Homo sapiens: one gene and its partners. The protein of the gene in region 4 purifies or fractionates together with the protein of the main gene of each other region. This does not show direct contact. Each region holds a gene or a part of one and is shown on either strand. Other genes may lie near its edges. The genes, in order: VPS33A, SRFBP1, NAA15 and SREK1.

Evidence for each region.
Region 1: the proteins of SREK1 (region 4) and VPS33A fractionate together in Homo sapiens (co-fractionation; one large-scale study listed by BioGRID). This does not show direct contact.
Region 2: the proteins of SREK1 (region 4) and SRFBP1 purify together in Homo sapiens (co-immunoprecipitation; one large-scale study listed by IntAct). This does not show direct contact.
Region 3: the proteins of SREK1 (region 4) and NAA15 fractionate together in Homo sapiens (co-fractionation; one large-scale study listed by BioGRID). This does not show direct contact.

What each region holds. Positions count from the first base shown.
Region 1 is NC_000012.12:122,234,259-122,240,422, forward strand, and holds part of VPS33A (vacuolar protein sorting-associated protein 33A), read right to left. Parts: intron 5,688-6,164; coding exon 5,620-5,687; intron 4,467-5,619; coding exon 4,329-4,466; intron 1,666-4,328; coding exon 1,528-1,665; intron 1-1,527.
Region 2 is NC_000005.10:122,013,975-122,017,474, forward strand, and holds part of SRFBP1 (serum response factor-binding protein 1), read left to right. Parts: intron 1-3,500. UniProt on the Homo sapiens protein: May be involved in regulating transcriptional activation of cardiac genes during the aging process. May play a role in biosynthesis and/or processing of SLC2A4 in adipose cells.
Region 3 is NC_000004.12:139,338,037-139,344,200, forward strand, and holds part of NAA15 (N-alpha-acetyltransferase 15, NatA auxiliary subunit), read left to right. Parts: intron 1-2,875; coding exon 2,876-3,033; intron 3,034-4,789; coding exon 4,790-4,924; intron 4,925-6,149; coding exon 6,150-6,164. UniProt on the Homo sapiens protein: Auxillary subunit of N-terminal acetyltransferase complexes which display alpha (N-terminal) acetyltransferase (NAT) activity. The NAT activity may be important for vascular, hematopoietic and neuronal growth and development.
Region 4 is NC_000005.10:66,160,101-66,166,264, forward strand, and holds part of SREK1 (splicing regulatory glutamine/lysine-rich protein 1), read left to right. Parts: intron 1-2,008; coding exon 2,009-2,173; intron 2,174-2,313; coding exon 2,314-2,492; intron 2,493-3,691; coding exon 3,692-3,822; intron 3,823-4,507; coding exon of another isoform or gene 4,508-4,557; exon of another isoform or gene 4,558-4,682; coding exon 4,683-4,797; intron 4,798-6,164. UniProt on the Homo sapiens protein: Participates in the regulation of alternative splicing by modulating the activity of other splice facors. Inhibits the splicing activity of SFRS1, SFRS2 and SFRS6. Augments the splicing activity of SFRS3.

The DNA of each region.
Region 1 (6,164 bases), on a different chromosome or scaffold from region 4:
TGCATAGCTTTTTTTTTCCCTTTTTCTTTTTCTTTTTGAGATAGGGTCTCATTCTGTCGCCCATGCTGGAGTGCAGCAGTGCAATCTCAGCTCACTGTAGCCTCAACCTCCCAGGCTCAGCCTCCTGGGAGGCTCCCACCTCAGCCTTCTGAGTACAGTAGCTGGGCCTACAGATGCATGCTCCACCATGCCCTGATCACTTTTGTATTTTTTAGTAGAGACAGGGTTTCACCATGTTGGCCAGGCTGGTCTTGAACTCCTGACCTCAAGTGATCCTCCTGCCTTGGCCTCCCAAAGTGCTGGAATTACAGGTGTGAGCCACCGCGCCTGGCCATGGCTGGCTTGTTTATGAGTGCTGGACATCTCCACTGACTCCTCTAGACACTCTCCACCCTTCTCCGCAATGCTCTGTGCCCGGAGATGGACCTGTGCGTCCCACACCAACACACTCCAATGCCTTCTCTTTGGGTCTGACCAAGACAAAGCACCAGAGTGAACTGGAGAGTGGGCAGCAGTGTGAGGATGACGTTGTCACTGGCCAGCTTCCTCTGCTGGAGGTTGACCATACCCTCAGCCAGAGGCCCCTCACCCCTTACCTCACCAGATGGCCTCACCACAGCTCTTCTCTCCAGGTTCTAAGACAAGTTTCTAGAACACCCCCCTCTCCTTGTCCTTCAGGCCGTGGCTGGCAAGGGCTCCCCACTGCACTGCCTCTCCACTCTTCCCACATCTTTATTTATTTGAGACAGAGTCTTACTGTGTAGCCCAGCCTGGAGTGCAGTGGCACAAACATGGTTCACTGCAACCGCCTCCTGGGCTCAGTGATCCTCTAACCACAGCCCCTCGGACTAAAGGCTCATACTACCACTGGCCATTTTTTTTGTAGAGACAAGGTTTTGCCATGTTGCCCAGGCTGGTCTCGAACTCCTGGACTCAAGCGATCTGACCCTTCAGCCTCCCAATATACTGGGATTACAAGAATGAGCCACCGAGCCTGCCCCATAACTTTTTTTTTTTTTTTTTTGAGACAGAGTCTTGCTCTGTCGCCCAGGCTGGAGTGCAATGGCATGATCTGAGCTCACTACAACCTCCGCCTCCCAGGTTCAAGCAATTCTCCTGCCTCAGCCCCCCAAGTAGATGGGATTACAGGCACGCACCACAATGCTGGGCTAATTTTTGTATTTTTAGTAGAGATGGGGTTTCCCATGTTAGTCAGGCTGTTCTCAAACTCCTGAGCTCAAGTGATCTGCCCGCCTCGGCCTCCCAAAGTGCTGGGATTATAGGTGTGAGCCACCGCGCCCAGCCCACATCTTTATTAAACTCTCCAGAAACTCCCCAGTTTAAGAGCATTCTCTGTGTCCTTCTAGGATTCTGATGGATACAATACATGCATACATTACTTTTTCAAAAACATTAGAAAATTGTTTTCAGAAAGCAAGGCAGATGTGTAGGTTCAGAAGCATGTGTTGTCACCTGGACGATCTAACCAGTCCCTAAGCTGAGACGAGGTGGAGAAGTGTGGCTTACTTGCTCATTAACATCATCCATCCAGAGGCGTAATGTTTTCCGTATAGTTGGGTAATTGTTTCTGCCCCCCGTCTGCGGTTTCAGCAGGCCGGCCTTCTCCAGGTTGTGTAAGGTCAATATGTGCTCATAGCCGTATGTCTGCAAGGGAAGTCATTTGGCCTTGATGTCAGATCAGGAAAAGGATTTCTGCAATTTTCAAAGAAGGGCACTTCCAACAAATCAATTTGGTTTGTACTGCAGGACATGTTACCAAAGTCCAGCAATGTTAGTGGATGGGCACAGAGGACAGGGTGGAGGGATGAAACTTGTCCTAAAACTGCTTGCCTGTTACTATTAATTCAGCTCACTGTTTCAAAGAGAAATTTAAAATTTTTACTTTAAAGTCAGAATTTATGGACCCAATCTAAGCAAGCATCAAATAAATGATAGTATATTTTTATAAGGGATATAATTAGCTCTAAAAAAGAGTAAGGCATATGTATACATCCTGATAAGAAAGGTCTCCAGAATATATTAAAAAAAAAATAACATGTAGAGTAGGACATTATTTCTATTTTTAAAAAGTAGCCAAGGTCTGGGCATGCTGGCTCACACCTGTAATCCCAGTACTTTGGGAGGCCGAGGCGGGCCAATCACTTGAAGTCAGGAGTTTGAGACCAGCCTGGCCAACATGGTGAAACCCTGTCTCTACTAAAAATTAAAAAATTAGCTGGGCCTGGTGGCATGTACCTGTAATCCCAGCTACTCGGGAGGCTGAGGCAGGAGAATCGCTTGAACCCAGGAGGTTACAGTGAGCCAAGATTGTGCCACTGCACTCCACTCTGGGCAACAGGGTGAGATACTGTCTCAAAAAATAAATAAATTTTAAAAAGTAGCCAACACTTATAAAATACTTTCTATGAGCTGGGCACTGTTCTGGTCTAAGCACTTACATACATTAACTCAGTCATCCCGGCTCTAACCCCATGACGTAGGTATCATTACCTTCATTTTACAGAGATGTTTAAATAACCTGCCTAAAGTCACACAGCTAGTGAAGAGCAGAGCTGAAACCTGGATCCAGCCAGTCTTGCTCTGAAGTCTGTGTATGGAAACATTCTGTCTAAATGCAAAGAATGGAGTTTGGAAGGAAGCAAATCAGACTGCTGACACTGGTCACATCTGGGGAGGGAAACTGGGGTATGAGCAAGGTACAGGGGACGTTCACATTTTGCTCTGTGTACTTCTGCATTATTTGACTCTTACACAAGGATACATAACTTAAAAAAAGACAAAAACAAAAAATTAATGAGCACTCAATTTTAATAAAAATGTACTTAACTGTCACTGGTAACAGCAAATAAATACTACCTGAGTCATTTTCAAACAAAGGGGAGACTTTTCAAAAACAAGAGTGGCCTTTTCCTTATTATAAGTAACACAGGCTTAATTTAAGTAAACCTGCTAAGCAACTGTCATCAGAAATTTGCAGAAAGTTCTTTTCCTCCGTGGTATAACTGCGGAGTTAAGAACATGGGCGCTACACTCAAATTGCCTGGTTTACCACTGGCTGTGCCACTTACCAGCCAGGTAACCTTGGGTGAGTTACCTAAACTAGTCTGTGCCTCAGTTTTTCATCCATAAAACTGGGACGATAGCAGTCTCTAACTCACAAGGCTGTTGTGAATATTTGTTGTTGTTGTTATGGTAACTACAGTTAACAAGGAAGTATTGTGAAGATGAAACAAATGAATGCACATAAAGTTTTTCTTTTTTTTTTTTTTTTTTTTGAGACGGAGTCTCGCTCTGTCGCCCAGGCCGGACTGCGGACTGCAGTGGCGCAATCTCGGCTCACTGCAAGCTCCGCCTCCCGGGTTCACGCCATTCTCCTGCCTCAGCCTCCCGAGTAGCTGGGACTACAGGCGCCCGCCACCGCGCCCGGCTAATTTTTTGTATTTTTAGTAGAGTCAGGGTACAGAGCCACCGCGCCCGGCCTATAAAGTTTTTCCAATAGATCCTAGCACATAGTAAATGCTCAAGAAATGTTACCTATTATTATTATTTTTTACTTTTTGTAAACAAGCTATGTTGCCTAGGCTGGTTTTGGACTCCTGGGCTCAAGCAATCCTCCTAACTCAGCCTCCTGGGTAGCTGGGACTGCAGACACAGCCACCATGCCTGGTAAATTTTTGTATTTTTTTTGTAGAGACAGGGTCTTGCTATGTTGCCAGGCTGGTCTTGGCCTCCAGCGATCCTCCTGCCTCAGCCCCACAAAATATTGAGATAACAGAGGTGAGCCACTGTGCCCAGCCTGTTAGCTATTATTATCACACAAATACAATAAACAGTGATGGCTACCAAGACCAATTCCTCTAGGTGTTAAAAAATTTATACAACAGTCGTTACAAGATACCAAAATGGCAGCTTTGTAATTTTTATTTTTTTTAATTTTAAATTTTTTATTATTATTTTTTGAGACAGAGTCTCACTCTGTTGCCCAGGCTGGAGTGCAGGGGCATGATCTTGACACACTGTAACCTCCGCCTCCTGCGTTCAAGCGATTCTCCTGCCTGATCCTCTCAAATAGCTGGGACTACAGGTGCATGCTACCATGCCTGGCTAATTTTTGTATTTTTAATAGAGATGGGGGTTTCACCATGTTGGCCAGGCTGGTCTCAAACTCCTAACCTCAAGTGATCCACCTGCTTTGGCCTCCCAAAGTGCTGGGATTACAGGCGTAAGCCACTGTGCCCGGCCCATGAAGTATTTTTTAAAAAGATGCTGTCCCCCTTGGCAAATTAATAATTTAAAAATATACTCACCTGGAGAATCTCTCTTTTGTAATAATCCAAAACTTTTTGTTTGAGCCCACTATTACACACGGATTGGAGGCAAACTAGTCTTAACACCTTGATCAACGAGTGCTTTTGGGCGATACAATCCTCAATGTAATTGTTGACCTGGAAATAAAGTAGCATACATATACATATACATTTACATATACATACACACACACACACACACACACACACACACACACACAATACATGGTTTAGGAACTTAACTTGATGTTTATTATTATTTTTCAAAGTCCAATAAAGGAGATACGTGGGAAAATGAGTTATTTTTCCACAGTCCCTAACCCTTCCCCGAAATAGCTCTGCTAGCCCCAGCCACACACACACCCTGGCCACCACACACACACACACACCCCACACACACATACATACATACACACACACACACACACACACACACCCCCCAGTGATCAGGCCAAGTCACTGGAGCCCAAGGCCGCTGAGAATACAATTGGTCACTCCATATGCCTGTCTGGACACGTCTGTCTCTAAGGACACGCTTCTGAGAGGCTACCAGATGTCTACTCCATTTCAATAGTATCAACAACTAATCTAGCAAAAAGTATCAGTAATTGTTTTATGTTAGGAATTTTCATAAAGTGAATAATTTAAAATTTGTTAATAGAGCTATTTAAAGGAGTTATATAAGAAACTCTTTCAAAAGAGCAAATACCTTATCTAATACAGTCTTAAAAAGATTTGATTTTAGGGGCCAGGTCTCATGTTGCCATGTATGGCAGAAAGTGTCTTGCACAGAATAATGTTAAATATCTGTTACTTGATAAAATCTACACTTGCACATTTTGCATTTGCTCTTAAAAATATTTAAGTGGCCGGGCGCAGTGACTCACGCCTGTAATCCCAACAGTTTGGGAGGCCAAGGTGGGCGGATCACAAGGTCGGAGATCGAGACCATCCTGGCTAACATGGTGAAACCCCGTCTCTATTAAAAATACAAAAAATTAGCCAGGTGTGGTGGTGAGCGCCTGTAGTCCCAGCTACTCGGGAGGCTGAGGCAGAATGGCGTCAACCCGGGAGGCGGAGCTTGCAGTGAGCAGAGATGGCGCCACTGCACTCCAGCCTGGGCAACAGAGCAAGCTGGGTGACACACAGTGAGACTCCGTCTCAAAAAAAAAAAAAAAAAAAAAAAAAAAAAAGGCAAGGCATGGGAATCAAAGCAATTGGTTTTCTGGCTATAATCTGAGGTTTAATAAGCTTTCAATTACTTGTTAAAGAGGTTTTTTTGTCCACATACCTTATCAGTGTCTATTCCAGACATAAACTCCTGTTCCACGGTTAATTTATCAAAAAAGTCTTCAGAAGCTAAAATGAAATTAGCAAATTTGCAACTTAGAAATTAAATGTTAATTTACTTGAGTGGCATGCTTTTATACACAGAGCACGATTCAGAAACTAGACATGTGGCTGGGCACGGTGGCTCACACCTGTAATCTCAGCACTGTAGGGGGCCGAGGTGGGTGGATCACTTCAGGCCAGGAGTTCAAGACCAGCCTGACCAACATGGCCAAACCCCATCTCTACCAAAAACACAAAAATTAGCTGGGTATGGTGGCACACACCCGTAGTCCCAGCTACTCGGGAGGCTAAGGCACAAGAATCACTTGAGGCGGGGAGGCGGAGGTTACAGTGAGCCAAGATCACACCATTGCTCTCCAGCCTGGGCAACAGAGCGAGACTCTGTCTCAAAAGAAAAGAAACCAGACATCATGCAAAAAAGCAAGCAAGCAATAAGTTCAAGTCATCACCTGAAGAAAATCTTTTAGGAAACATGGAAAACGC
Region 2 (3,500 bases), about 56 Mb from region 4:
AGCACAGCAAGGTGACTACAGTTAATATATTTCAAAATAGCCAAAAGAGAGGATTTAAAATGTTCCCATCACAAAGAAATGATAAATGTTTAAAGTGGTAGATATGGTAATTACTCTGATTTGATGATTCTACAATGTATGCATGTGTCAATATCACTTTGTACTCTATAAGTGTCTAAAATTATTGTCAAAATAAAACAGAAAACACATCTTAGAGTTTTATAACAATATTTATATATTTATAACATTTTATCAGCTGATAGCATTAACTGTTATTCAGAAACACAAATTGCATATAATTATAGAACCTAAAGCTGTAGTATACATAATTCTACATAACTACTCATTTTATATACCTACATACCCTGTAGACCCAAACTTTTATGTTCTCCTTTGACTCACTGCTGCTACATATGGCTGCAGAGCTCCAATTTGACAACTACAATGTGAGTGACTCTCCGGGGATTATGCAACACGGTGGCCCTTTTCGAATCAGTCTCATTTTATATAAACTTGATATTCTTCCACAAATAAGTGCTCCACAAAGATTGCAACATAAAAACACAGTTATAGAAGAAGACATTAGAAAAAAAAAATTAAAAAAATCTTCATTCATGAGATTCGTACATAATTATAGAATTGTAAATCTTTTTCTAGAGCCTTTCAGAAAAAAATGAAATTCACTGAAATGAGATTACTAAATCAGCGTTAGTCTGGGATATCTTCCAGGGCAGAGAAACAGCTTTGCTAAATAAAATTAATGATAAAATGACTCTTAACAAAATAGCATTTACCCCGGAGTCCACACTAGACATGCAAGTATTACCACTGCTCTTCTAAAACTTGTTATAACTAAGATGGGAAGATATAGCTAACTCTGGAAAGAAATACCCAGTTCAGCAAAGATTTTAGCAAGTTGTCAAAACAGGGATTTGGAAACAGCAGTAGATGTGTTTTTCAACAATTGTTTGAATACATTTTAATCAAAATCTGGTTAGGATTCCCAGAATTTCTTATGTCTGTTTTATATCTGTTCATATATTGAGAATTACCTTTGAAGTGGATTTTTAGAAACTATAAGAGGTAAACATGCTGAAAGAAGCAGTAAAAGGTAAAAAGCTGCTCCTGGAATATCTTCTTTTTTCCTATAACCTGAAGGGCAGTTTCTTGGGGAATACACTTCTCAGGATTAGTCATTTTTGTTGTCATTGTTTTTACATACCAACCTTCTGTAATTAATCCTGAGGATTAAAATATACTGCTTCTTCATTGGATACCAAATTGTTTCTACCAAGACAGAATCTCAAATTGTGTTACCAATCTGGAAGCACACTTACTGCTATAATCTGTTGCTTTAATTTGGCAACAGAAGTCTGTCATGGTAGTATTTTTATTTTAAATTTTTAAACATCACGGGCCTACTACACAGTTTTTTCTTTCTTCCTGATTTTTTAGTTCTGCCCCACCAAGGATTCTACTTGCATGTAATTTAGAGCAGGCATCACGCTTTTTCTGTAAAGGACCTGAAATGAATGCCTTTGTAAGACACACAGCTTCTGTCACAACTACTTCGCTTTACCATTGTGTCGTGAGTGCAGACATAGGCAATATATAAATGAATGACTTTGGCTTTGTTCCATAAAACTTTATTAAATAAAAGAAAGTTCCAGCGGCAGGCTGGAACAGCCCCCATGGGCCAGTTTGCCAATTCCTGGTTTTGAAAATCAAATACTTCTACAAGAATTTTTTTATAAAAGTGGCAGTACTCTATTATTCCTTTCCTGCTTCAATTGCAGTTAGTTCGCATAGAGTTTACCCCTACAGTAAGATGTTTATGTACTGTATTAGCTTTTTTATTTTAAGCACTAGCTATTAACTTTATGTTGTGGTAGGTAAAGATTTAGATCTCTTTTCTCCTTCAGGCTCTAAGTCATATATCCCCTCCATCCTCCTCATATACTTATCTCCTGATATCCCCCCTTCATCCTCCTTATATACTTGAATCAGATTAGGTGAACATTTATTGATTATGTTATTGTGACTGTGAGTCATGTACTGAGTTATTACTACTTTTCTGCATAATATTTCTGTTTTCTACAGTTTGTGATAGGTTTATTTTGTTAGTTTTCTGTCTTATCTGTAGTGTAACACCAAACTCTCCATCTGCTATTGATATGTCCTCTCCAGATATTCAGCACACCAAGTATCCCAAACCTAAGTCTCCTGTCACCATCATCCTGGGAAGTTCCTTCTGCCTAAGTCTTCTGTTTCTTGTCTCCTATGCCATTCTTATTATTTGTATCCTTCCTCATTTTAGGGGAGCCAGTAGCTTCTTGGACAGAAATGTACAAGGATGTAAATTTTTTTGAATAAACTGCATGTGTGGAAGTATTTTTCTTCTTCCCTAGGTTGGAAATTCTTTTCCTTCATAATTTTAGAAGCATTAGCTGCTCTATAGTTTGACTTCCAGAATTAAAGTCTGAAACCATTGTGATCTGTGCGTCTTTTCTTTTTAGTTTATTATTTGGTGACTTGTTTTATTATCTGAAATCTTGTAGGTCCCAATATACTAATGTGACTATTTTCATATATTGTTTTCAGTCTTCTTAGCCTGAAAAATCATGTTTTTCATTGGAGTTTCTATATTCTAGCTTTTAATACTCAAGCAAGCATGTTTGACCTATGCCTTCAGCAGCTCAGCTTGTCACTAAGTGACTCAGGATACTAGCAATAACCTTCCTTCCTAAATTATCTTTTTTCTATCTTTCCTCTATTGTATCAGGAAACTCAGCAGCAGGTTGAAGAAACAGGTTCACTTTGCGCTGTACTTAAATGAATGGTCCATGAGTAGACGACATTTCTTGGAAAAGGTTGAACAGAAGCTGTGTCTAATAGTCAGAATAGATGCGTATCAGTTTCCTAAGGCTGCCATAACAAAGTATCACAAATTGAGTGGTTTAAAACTATGTAAATTGGCCAGGCGCGGTGGCTCACACCTGTAATCCCAGCACTTTGGGAGGCCGAGGCAGGTGGATCACAAGGTCAGGAGTTCGACACCAGCCTGGCCAACGTGGTGAAACCCCATCTCTACTAAAAATACAAAAATCAGCTGAGCGTGGTGGCGGGTGCCTGTAGTCCCAGCTACTCGGGAGGCTGAGACAGGAGAATCGCTTGAACCCGGGAGGCGGAGGTTGCAGTAAGCCAAGATCACGCTACTGCAACTCCAGCCTGGGTGACAGAGTGAGACTCCCAACAACAACAACAAAAAAGTAAATTTATTTTCTCACAGTTGAGGAGGGTGAAAGCTTGAAATTAAGGTGTCAGTGAGGCCACACTTTCTCTGGAAGCTCCAGAGGGGAAACTTTCCTGTGTCTTTGAGCTACTGGTGGCTGATGCCAGGATAACTCCAATCTTTGCCCTTAGTGTTCACGTAGTCTTTACTGTGTCTCTCTGTGCCCCTATATCAAAATATTCTTCTCCTTATAAGGAAACCAGTCTTA
Region 3 (6,164 bases), on a different chromosome or scaffold from region 4:
ATTTGAGTTCCTCTTGATGGACATAATTTTCTTTAAATATTTGGCAATGTTAAACTCTTTGAGGGTGGGATTTTTAGGAGATGAAGATGAGAGTCAGTTGTGTGGCTGTTGCAATATTTAAGAGAGGTAAAGTCCTGAAATACAGGATATTAGTGATAGAAATGGGAGGGAGTGGAAAGATAGGTAATGGGAGCTAGATTTTAATGGGTAGTGTTTCCTAGTTTATAAAACCATGATCCAAACGGCTGAGAGGATTTGATCCAGTTGCACTTTGTCATTTGTATTACGGAAATCAAGATTATTTTTCAAATAAAATTTGTAATATTTTGACTTGCTTTAAAAATGTGTAATATTAAATATGTGTTTTTAGTTCATGCATGCCATCCTAAACATTCTGGGGTTTTTTTTTGTTTGTTTGTGCTTTTTTTTAGATGGAGTTTTGATCTTGTCGCCCAGGCTGGAGTGCAATGGCACGATCTCAGCTCACTGCAACCTCTGCCTCCCTGCTTCAAGTGATTCTCCTGCCTCAGCCTCCCAAGTAGCTGGCATTACAGGTGCACAGCACCAAGCCTGGCTAATTTTTGTATTTTTAGTAGAGACAGGGTTTCATCATGTTGGCCAGGCTGGTGTCAAACTCCTGACCTCAAGCCATCCACCCATCTTGGCCTTCGAAAGTGCTGGGATTACAGGTGTGAGCCACCATGCCTGGCCAACATTCTGTATTTTATTGACTCTGTTGAGGACCTCTGGCCTAAAAGTTGTTAGATTGAAGGTTGTTGTTTGTTTGTTTTTGAGATGGAGTTTCACTCTGTCACCCAGGCTAGAGTGCAGTGGTGTGATCTTGGCTCACTGCAACCTCTACCTCCTGGGTTCAGGTAATACTCCTGTCTCAGCCTCCCGAGTAGCTGGGAATACAGGTGCATGCCACCATACCTGGGTGTTTTTTGTATTTTTAGTATAGACGAGATTTTGCAGTGTTGGCCAGGCTGGTCTCGAACTCGTGACTTGAAGTGATCCACCTACCACTGCCTCCCAAAGTGCTGGGATTACAGGTGTGAGCCACTGTACCTGGCCAGATTGAAGTTTGAGCTTGATCTCAGAAAGAAACGTTATAAGTTTCTGGAAAGGGAAGTGGACTTCCGTTTTTCTTTTGAGTGTGTTTTAAAAAGATTATTTTGGGCCAGCCACAGTGACTCATGCCCATAATCCCAGCACTTTGGGAGGCTGAGGCAGCGATCACTTGAGGCTAGGAGTTCAAGACTAGCCTGGGCATCATAGTGAGACCTCGTCTCTATGGAAAATAAAAAATTAACTGCATGTGGTGGTGGCATGTGCCTGTGGTCCTAGCTGCTCTGGAGGCTGGGGTAGAAGGATTGTTTGAGCCCAGGAGTTTGAGGCTACAGTGAGCTATGAGTGTGCCACTGCACTCCAGCCTAGGTGATAGAGCGAGACCATCTCTTTTAAAAAACGCAATAATTAGGAGGCGGGCGGATCACGAGATCAGGAGATCAAGACCATCCTGGCCAACATGGTGAAACCCTGTCTCTACTAAAAATACAAAAATTATAGCTGGGCGTGGTGGCAGACGCTTGTAATCCCAGCTACTTGGGAGGCTGAGGCAGGAGAGTTGCTTGAACCTGGGAGGCAGAGGTTGCAGTGAGCTGAGATCATGCCACTGCACTCTAGCCTGGTGACAGAGCGAGACTCCATCTCAAAAACAAACAAACAACAACAACAACAACAAAAAACAACAAAACCCAATTACTTTGGTAGGAGAATAAAAGAAGACAGACTGAAGATAGGTGGGTTGGGTAGCTGGTACAGTAATCAAGATCTAAAGTGAAAAAGGGCTGTATTTGGGAAGTGGAATATTCTCCTCCTTGATAGCAGTTTTTACAACCTACTTTAATTTTGCTTATTTATCTGTCCTTTACTAGACTTTAAGATCTTTTAATATAGGAGGCTATTTTGATGACCTACGTCTTAGTTATTAAGAAGTTTTAGGCTGGGTTTGGGAGCTTATGCCTGTAATCCCCGCACTTTGGGAGGCCAAGGCAGGTGTATTGCTTGGGCTCAGGAGTTTGAGACCATCTTGGGCAACATGGCGAGATCCCATCTCTACCAAAAATAGAAAAAAATAGCTGGCATGCTGGTGTGTGCCTGTAGTCGCAGCTACTCAGGAGGCTGAGGTGGGAGTATCACTTGAGTGCAGGGAGTGGAGGTTGCAGTGAGCAAAGACCACACCACGACACTCCAGACTGGGTGACAGAGCAATACCTGTCTCAAAAAAAGGGAAAGAAGTTTTAATAATTACGGTTAAATGAATGAATGTTTTTATTTTATATGTGGCTGAGTTTTAGAAACTTTGTATTACACTAAGGGTTGTCCTAAGAATCTTGTTAGTTCAAGAAAATAAAATCTTCATGACTTTACATAACTGGATTCCATGAAGACCCATTCCTTCTTTTTCCTTTTACTATTAATAATATAGTAACTGTTTACATATATATATATTGACTTTGTGCCAGCCAGTGAGCACTTTATATATGTTATCCCATTTAGTTGTCAGTAGTATGATTTGCTGCATAGACTATTTGTTTACATTTTAGTAATGAGGAAACTTAATGAGACTGATTTGTCCAAGGTTACAGAGCTGATAAGGTAGGCAAGACCTAATTTTCTCTGGCTGCAAAAGCTGTGCTCTTTTCCACTGTATTAAACTGCTTTATATCTTTGAAATCAATCTCCCCCTCCCCTTCCCCTTCTTTTTAAGCTTGTAGTTTTATAAATGGCTGTGGTTCTCCAAGTTTTTTGGGAGGTCGTTTGGAATAGTAATTTTTGACTTGTAGGTTGTACCCTTAACTAAATTCTTTAGGTTGGCACGTTTATGGCCTTCTTCAGAGGTCAGACAAGAAGTATGATGAAGCCATTAAGTGTTACAGAAATGCACTAAAATGGGATAAAGACAATCTTCAAATCTTAAGGGACCTTTCCTTACTACAGATTCAAATGCGAGATCTTGAGGGTTACAGGGTAAGTAAAATAGAGACTTTTTTTTTTAATTCTAAGGGGAAAATATGTACAACTTTGAGTACTTTCAGATACATAAATTTTTTATTTCATTTTGAAAATAATTTAATTGAATTTTTTTTTCCTCCTACCACAGTGGTTATGTTTATGATTGGAATAATCAGATCTTTAAAAATAAATTATTTTATGGTGAGGCAGATTTGGCCTACTGTGTAGGGTTGACTTAATTTGATAAAAATTAACATCAGGCCAGGTGCGGTGGCTCACGCCTGTAGTCCCAGCACTTTGGGAGGCCCAGGTGGGTGAATCATGAGGTCAGGAGATCGAGACCATCCTGCCTAACACAGTGAAACCCCATCTCTACTAAAAATACAAAAAATTAGCTAGGCGTGGTGGCAGGTGCCTGTAGTCTAGCTACTCAGGAGGCTGAGGCAGGAGAATGGCCTGAACCCGGGAGGTGGAGCTTGCAGTGAGCCAAGATCACGCCACTGCACTCCGGCCTGGGTAACAGAGCGAAACTCTGTCTCAAAAAAAAAAAAAAAAAAAAAAAAAAGAAAATCAGTACTCCTCAAATAAACAATGCCTTTGTCTAGTATTGACATGTAACTCTAACATTTACTTCCCACATTTTTCTGGAAAGCAAAACAAAAAAAAAATTTTTTTTTTCTTGGAGACATTAGAGTCTCACTCTGTTGCCCAGGCTGGAGTGCAGTGGCATGATCTTGGCTCACTGCAGCTTCCACCTCCTGGGTTCAAGCAGTTCTCATGCCTCAGCCTCCTGAGTAGCTGGGGCTACAGACATGTGCCACCATGCCCAGCTCATTTTTTATATTCTAATAGAGATGAGGTTTCACCATGTTGCTCAGGCTGGTCTTGAACTCCTGAGCTCAGGCAGTCCACCCCACCTTATTCTCCCAAAGTGCTAGGATTACGGGCATGAGCTGCTGCACCTGGCAAAAACAAATGTTTTGTTTCTTCTTTCTACCTCCACTGACTCTAATATATTTTTGTAGCTTCGATTTTAACCCTTAAATTAGTGTTAGATCTATTTAGTTCCTCTTTCATATTCTTTCCTCTTTATGTATGTTAACTCTGTAGTTGGACACTTAATTTTTAAAAACATTTTTGAATATTTTTCCTTTGTGCTGTTCTTTCCATCCTGCCTCTTTTCTGGGACTGAGCAGATCAAGAAATAAAGAAGGGTCTTAAGTTTGGTCTTAAGTTTTAAAAACTTAAATCTGGTCTTAAGTTTTAAAAAAATTCTAAGATTAGCTTGGAGGCTTCATTATGTTCTTAACAAATATTTCTTTGCCTCCATAAAGCTACACAATATGGATGTTTGAAGTATTTTCTATTATTGTTCCCATCATTGTGTTGTAAAATGCTTGGGGTTGTGGGATAAATTAATGTGTGTTTTTTTTTTTTTTTTTTGAGACGGCGTCTTGCTCTGTTGCCAGGCTGCAACCTCTGCCTCCCGGGTTCAAGTGATTCTCCCGCCTCAGCCTCCTGAGTAGCTGGGACCACAGGCGTGCACCACCATGCCCAGTTAATTTTTGTATTTTTGATAGAGACGGGGTTTCACCATGTTGGCCAGGATGGTCTCGATCTCTTGACCTCGTGATCCACCCGCCTTAGCCTCCCAAAGTGCTGGGATTACAGGCGTGAGCCACTGCGCCTGGCCTAATATGGAGATCTTTTAAAGGAGCACTTGCTGTTACTAAAAGCCTAAGAAAAAGTGTTTATTTTTTTCCTTTTAAAGGAAACGAGGTATCAGTTACTTCAGCTTCGACCTGCGCAGAGAGCATCATGGATTGGTTATGCTATTGCTTACCATTTATTAGAAGATTATGAAATGGCAGCAAAGATTTTAGAAGAATTTAGGAAAACACAACAGGTAATAACTAGAAGCCATTTTACTAAGTCTGATCCTAAGTATAACTAAAAAAATAATGTGCATAGTCTGGCTTACTTTTAATTTTGAAATAGTTTCAAACTTATAGAAAAGTTGCAGGAATAGCACAAAGAACTCTACATAGGGGTTCATTCATACTAAACTAATTGTTAATATTTGGTGCATTTACTTTAAAATTTGTGTATCTATTTATCTATTTTAATTTTCTTCCTTAAATGTTTGAGAGTAATTGCAAGACATCATGCTCCTTTACCCCTAAATGCTTTAGTGTGTATTTTCTAAAAATAACTGTATAGTTTTCAGTTCTCTAGATAGTATTATAGGGATAGATTATAAAAATTAGGAAATTTAACACTGATAGACTGTTATCTAATTAATCCCCAGCCCATATTCAGAATTTACTAATTGTCCTAGTTATAGCCTTTCTAGCAATTTGATTTCATTGCAGGATCCAATTAAGAATCATACCTTACATTTAGTTATCATTTCTCTTCAGCCTCTTTTAATCTGAAACAGTTTTGAAAACTTCCTTTGTATTTTATGACATAGACATTTCTGAAGAAGGCTGTGCTTTTGTAGGATGTCCCTCAATTTGGATTTTTCTGATGGTTCCTCATTCTTAGATAGAGTTTTATAATTTTGGCAGGAAACCATATAAATGATATTGGGTCCTTCTGCGTTCATTACATCAAGAGGCACATGCCATCAGTTCGTTCCATTTGATTACATGGTGAAAGTTGTATTTGCAGTTGTAAACGTATTTTTCTCTCTTTGTGTTTAATATGCAGTTTGAGACTGAATAGCCTATTGCTCATCAAACTTTCACCATCTAGTTTTAGCATTCATTGATTATGATTCTTGCCTGAATCAGTATTACTATGATAGTCGCAAAATGGTGATTCTCTTAACTCTAGTCATTCCTTGTAGGTTTATTATTTGGCATTCTACTCCTGAGTAAGAGCTTTCCCTTCTTCCCCATATTTATTGTGTGTAAGGACTTATGGATTATTATTTTATTCAACCTGTTATATCCTAATATTGTCATTATTTACTCAGTTGCTCTGTAGATACTTAAGAATTTTTTAAAAATTAGTTTTATCAACCGGATGTTATCCTTTGACTTCTTACATGTTTTTGAGTATTGTGAACAATTTTCTGATATGAAAATAAAATTCTTACTGTCAGTATTCCTTATATCCATATACAGACATCCCCTGACAAG
Region 4 (6,164 bases):
GCCTGGGCGACAGAGGGAGAGTCTCAAAAAAAAAAAAAGGGTATATTACTATTACTGGTTCTTGGTTTTTGCTTAAAAAACTCTGGCCATATTTATTTTAAAAGAAGTGCCATTTTTCTTCAAAAGACAACATAGAACAAAATACAAAGCTTGCCTTAATTGGAAGTTGAATCTAGCTTTGTGGTGTTGGATAGGAATTGAACTAAGAAATGAACTATGTGATTGTAGTTAATTTATCTAGATTGTAAGAGTGGTTTCTGAAATTTTGAAGTGCAAAATTTTAGATTTGTAGTTTTTACATAACATTGCTATGCTGAAGACCTGCATTCTGATTCTTGGGGGGAAATGTTTTTTAATTGAACTTATGTGTTCAAGGAACAGAATGGTGGTCAGTATGGTTGAAGCATAGTGAGTGAGGGTCATGAGTGTTTGAGATTGGAGGGGATAGATAGGACACAGATTATGGTAGGGCTTTTTAGACCATGGAAAGAGGGGTTTGAGTTTTATTCTTAAGGTAATTAGAAACCATTGATGGGTTTTAAGCAGGGATATGACATGATTTGACATGTTTTAAAAAGATCAGACTGGCTGCTGTGATAAGTGACATTGATTTCATAAACTTCCGTTTTCACCATTAGCAAGTGCCATTACTTAACAGTTGTTAAAATCTTAGTTCTGTATCATATTTGTATATATAGTCATTAATGGTCAAAATGTTCTCTAATAGTATAAGTGGAAATGAAAAGAGTTGTGCTTTTTTCCTTGAAAGCTCTTTTCGTTCTGAAAAATTTTTTCTGTTTTCAAATTCTGAGATCTTACATTTCTTCTAGTTTACATTCATATTAAAAATAATACGTTCCTTAATGCTGAAAGTAAAAACTGAATTTAGTGATGCTATAGAAAGATCATTCAAAGTTTTTTTGAAGGTTTTTGCCCTTTTCCTACCATGGCATAAGTAAGGGCTCAATATTTTAGATATATTTTCTTAGGTAAACTTTCAGCATGATAATAATAACCCATTTCTTAGGGTTGATATGAGGATTAAGTTACTACCTCAGTTAAATTCGATGCTATGATAATTGTTGACTGTTAGGAACTCATACTCATACTCATCTGTGTTTTTCAATGACCAAGGTACAGTTGATTCTCATTCTTTGTGAATTCTGTATTTTTGAATTCACTTAGTAAGTAAAATTTTTTTGAAATCCCCACATCAACAGTTGGAGCACTTTTGTGGTCGTTCGTGGACATACACAGAGTGGTGAAAAATTGGGGTTTGTCTATTTGCACGGAGGTCGAAATCTTCTTGTTTTGGCACTCAGGCAGTAAACAAGCACGCAGTCTGTTTAGTGCTATGTTCTTTGAATTGTTGTGCTTTTTGTTGGTGATTTCACTGTTAAGATGGGCCCACAAGTGTAGTGCCAAACTGCTGTGTAGTGTTCCTAAGTACAGGGAGATTGTGAAGTGCCTCATGGAGAAAATATTAAATACATGTATTAGATAAGCTTCATTCAGGCCTGAATTGTAGCGCTGCTGGCTGTAAGTTCAGTGTTAATGAATCGACAATATATAACAGCTAAGGTGTCTTTAAACAGAAGAACATATAAAATAAGGTTAAATATTTTACTAGTTAATGTAAATGTGACCAGAGGCTTGTAGGAACTTCACCCTGTATTTTCCCTAGGAATAATGGTTCAATATTCAATAATTCATTGTTCACGGAAACTATAGAACATAGCTATGTCAGGTAATGAGAAACAGCCTGTCTTTTAGGGTCAAGTTTAAAAGTGGCTAAAATATCCAGACAGTAAAATATATTTCAAATTACATTTAAAACTAATGTGACCTTACTTTAATAACTCAGACATATATATGACTGAAAGTTCGGAGTCCCTAGTCTCCTTTCATTCTTGTTGAGTTAGTTCATTCTTTTCAAGATTAGAGAATGGTATCTTTGGATACTAATAGAAAATATGTGTTCTGTGTGTTTTTTTTCTTCTTTCGATAGCTTGGTGTTTCACTTAGCAGTTTGGGAGCTATACCAGCAGCAGCACTAGACCCCAACATTGCAACACTTGGAGAGATACCACAGCCACCACTTATGGGAAACGTGGATCCTTCCAAAATAGATGAAATTAGGAGAACGGTTTATGTTGGAAATCTGAATTCCCAGGTAACTAATTAAAGAAGAAACAAAGCAGCAGTAGCCCTTATTCTTTTTCTCTTCTTAAAAATCATATCAGTGGATACAGTAATATTTATCTGATTTTTTAAATGGATATATTTTATCAAAGTGTCACTTTGTTCCCTTAGACAACGACAGCTGATCAACTACTTGAATTTTTTAAACAAGTTGGAGAAGTGAAGTTTGTGCGGATGGCAGGTGATGAGACTCAGCCAACTCGGTTTGCTTTTGTGGAATTTGCAGACCAAAATTCTGTACCAAGGGCCCTTGCTTTTAATGGAGTTATGTTTGGAGACAGGCCACTGAAGTAAGAAATCCTAAACAAAGAAATTTTAATGATTTTGAAACATTTAAAGTATTTTTGATGTAATGAAGGCTTTTTTTTTCTTTTTAATAGTAATTGGCAATTTGTGGAAAGGAAGACTTTGTGTTAAGTATAAATGAAATACATGAGATACTTACCATTTTAGTCTTTAAATTCCTTTATTTAGAGACATTTATTTTCTCATTTTCTGTTTTCTAGGGTCTAATTCAGTGTTAACATTATTTATATACCCTGCATAACGGTTGTAGGTCTTTTTCCATAAACTTTAATAGTCAGGTTGGTTTTACATTATGACACTAGACTAATTGAGCAACTTAACAGGTGGGTTGAACTACAGTACTTCCAGTAACAACTGTGGTAAATTCAAAATCTACAGAAGGAAATTATAAGTGCCCAGAAATGTTTTAAACCAGAAATTTTGACTTTTGAGGTTTGCTTACATCCTTGTTTGTAAAACGTTGATAATGGCCTTCGAGATACTCCAGACCAGAAATTCTATTTCATGCAGATTGTTGAGGCATATATAGTTTTGCTTGAATTTCATAGATTGCTTTAGTTATACAATTTGATCAGGATTTTTCTGTTAAGGATAAGTTTTTAGTGGGTACTTGTCTTCCCAGTGTGGAAGGGGTAAAGCAAGACACATAATATCCATTCATGTGCATCAGAGAAGTCACTCTTACCTAGTAGAGGAAGAATTTTTTCAGATGCCTTGCACATTCAAAGCTATGTCTAACTCAGCCATGGTTCAGCGTTGGTTAAAATGGTGTACATAATATGATGATATACAGGTAGCTTACCCTTCTTCTAGAGTGTACAGGATATCAGTAAGATCTTTTGATTTGAAAATAGAAATGATTCATTTTCATATTGGTATCAACATTTTAATTTATTTTAATTCTAAGCTATGGAAAAGCACTTCATCTAGTCTGTTTGAATTAAGTTAGCTAGGGTTCAATTTTTCTTTTCTCCCTGCTTTTGGTTGTATTCGCAAGGAATGATAGGAAGTGGGGATGAGAGATTAATCATGGTTTTGAGGTTGCTTTTGGTTATTCTGTATATCATTCTTACGTGCTTCTGAGATGTCCTCACGTTTATAAATATGTGTATCATATAAATGTTTGTTTCATGTTTTATAAAATGTGGTGTGTATTTGTGATATGCTAATATTTTTAATTTAGAATAAATCACTCCAACAATGCAATAGTAAAACCCCCTGAGATGACACCTCAGGCTGCAGCTAAGGAGTTAGAAGAAGTAATGAAGCGAGTACGAGAAGCTCAGTCATTTATCTCAGCAGCTATTGAACCAGGTAAGTACATAACGTTGTTACATAGGTCATAGTTTAAAGATCATAGACTCTTAGAACTGGAAGGAATTTTAGAAATCATCTTGTTCAGTCACTTCATTTTACAAACAAGAAGACTGAAACTCAAGAAATAGTAAGTAGCATACTCATGTCAAAGAACAACTTAGCCCATATTTTATCTCTTTCTGTGATACTGAATTGAGGCACTTTAGTCTGAGCTAATCAGCTCTGTATTTTCATAGCAAAATCAGTGCTCACAAGTGATTTGCTGAAAGCAAAAATGTTATTGCAAGGCTAAAAAGAGTACATATATTTAAAACGTTACGACTCAGCAGGTTTACTTTTCCTCAACATTTTAATTTTAGAAGTAGAGAAGAGAGCCCGTGATTTAGAAAAAAATACAGATACTGTATTTTAGTAAGGTAAAAGAACATCTATTTAAACTTTTGTGTTGCTAATGAAAATAATTAAAAAACCCATTCTAAAAACATCTAGGTGGTTTACATTTGAGCAGATTTTCTAAATCAACACTTAGAATTTAAGCTTCAAATTCTAGCAGAATAAGTGGAGAAAGGACTTAAAATCACTGTCACAGGAATTACAGACATGTTGTAATCGTACGTTACGGCAGCAACAAAATATTACGAACAGCTGTTTATAATCATCTGGTTTATATGTACTGCTGCAGGGTGGCTGCACTCAACGAGTTTATGCAATGACTTTCTTGGATGTTTCTGAAGGAGGAGGATGTACAGAGAGTAGGCCCCTTGCACTATATGTGGTACATTCCACTTGTGCCTGATTATTAACTGGGATCTTTAATTGTTCTGAGCTTACACTGCAAAGTGATTTTTTCCTCCCAGAGTCTGGAAAGAGCAATGAAAGAAAAGGCGGTCGATCTCGTTCCCATACTCGCTCAAAATCCAGGTCTAGCTCAAAATCCCATTCTAGAAGGAAAAGATCACAATCAAAACACAGGTGAGAATTTCTGCTGTCATATTTAAATTTTATTTTAGTTTTGTATTTAAAATATTAAGATTTTATGAGTTTTCGTCAAAATATCAGAAGTTAGAAATTTTAGTAGTGTACACCTGAAGTGTGGTTACCTTTAAATATTGTTCTAATTGTAATACTGTAGTTGAGAATGAAATTTTGTCTAATGATACTTAATTTTTAAATATTTGAACTTATCTTTATTTTTAGAAGTTAGTTTTGTGTCTAAAGATACTCTATTCCAGATTTTTCTAAGAGTAAACTAGTCTTTATATAGAAGTGACAAAAGCTGTTTTCATTCTTCATATTGAGAAAAGGGAACATCCTTAGTGACCATGCTGAAAATAATTGCTCAAGTTGCAGCTTTTTTGTTTTGTTTTCCCAGTCTATTCCAAGTTTGGGGAGCACCACCCCAGATCTTTCACGCAATTCCCTATTTTCAGTACCACGTATCCAAAGGAACACTTTGAGTCCTTGGTATTGCTGGTGATAAGAGCCTCCTCTGCCCACTTTTGGACCTGAAACACAGGAGTAACTTGCAGTTTCAGCTTCAGTTTTAGTACTTTGCTTAAGCTCTGTTTATCTTATTTTTGATCATAGCTTTGTCCTTTTGATTTTCTTTATCTGTCATTTCTTTGTCTTTGGTATAAAGGGGACCTTAAAATGCAAATTTGGCAATACCATCCTAATTGGAAGTACCCTAAAGATCATTACTAAAGTTACAAATTTTGTTGTCTATTTTAAGGTACGGAGGGGGCTGTTTTTGAAATGTGAAAGTATGTATAGTGGATCCTAATTGCATGTTATGTGTACATACGTACTCCTATGTATGTCTTGAGAGAGCAGGGAGGGAAGAGTGTATCTGTGTATGTTGGGATTTTAAAGAAGGAGAAAGGATTTGGGGGAGGGAAAAGGAACCAGTTTGTTGTACATTGTTTTACCAGCAGGCTCAGTTTACTTTGTTTTTGTGTGTGTGTGTGTTGATCAAGGAGATTCAAAGAATGAGGAAAAATAGGATGTTCTTTCTTAGATTCTAGTAAACAAGTATACACCAGATATACTAGTGTATACTTGTCTATTCTTAGTTTGCAAAATCTCCTTTGGAATATGGTTTTACTGCGTTTATCCAAGGACTTACAGTAAGACACTTTCAGAACCAAGTGAAGGAGGTTGTTTCACATACAAGAATAAGGCAGTGCAGCAGAGGCCAGAATCAGGAAAGGACAGTGGAACAGAAGCTGCAGTGATACTAGACTGTGGATATTTCCATATGTTGACAGGATGTGGTGAGGGTAAAGGAGATCAAGGAAATAATAGAATTGGGCTGAAGAGTAATATTACAACTTCTTTTC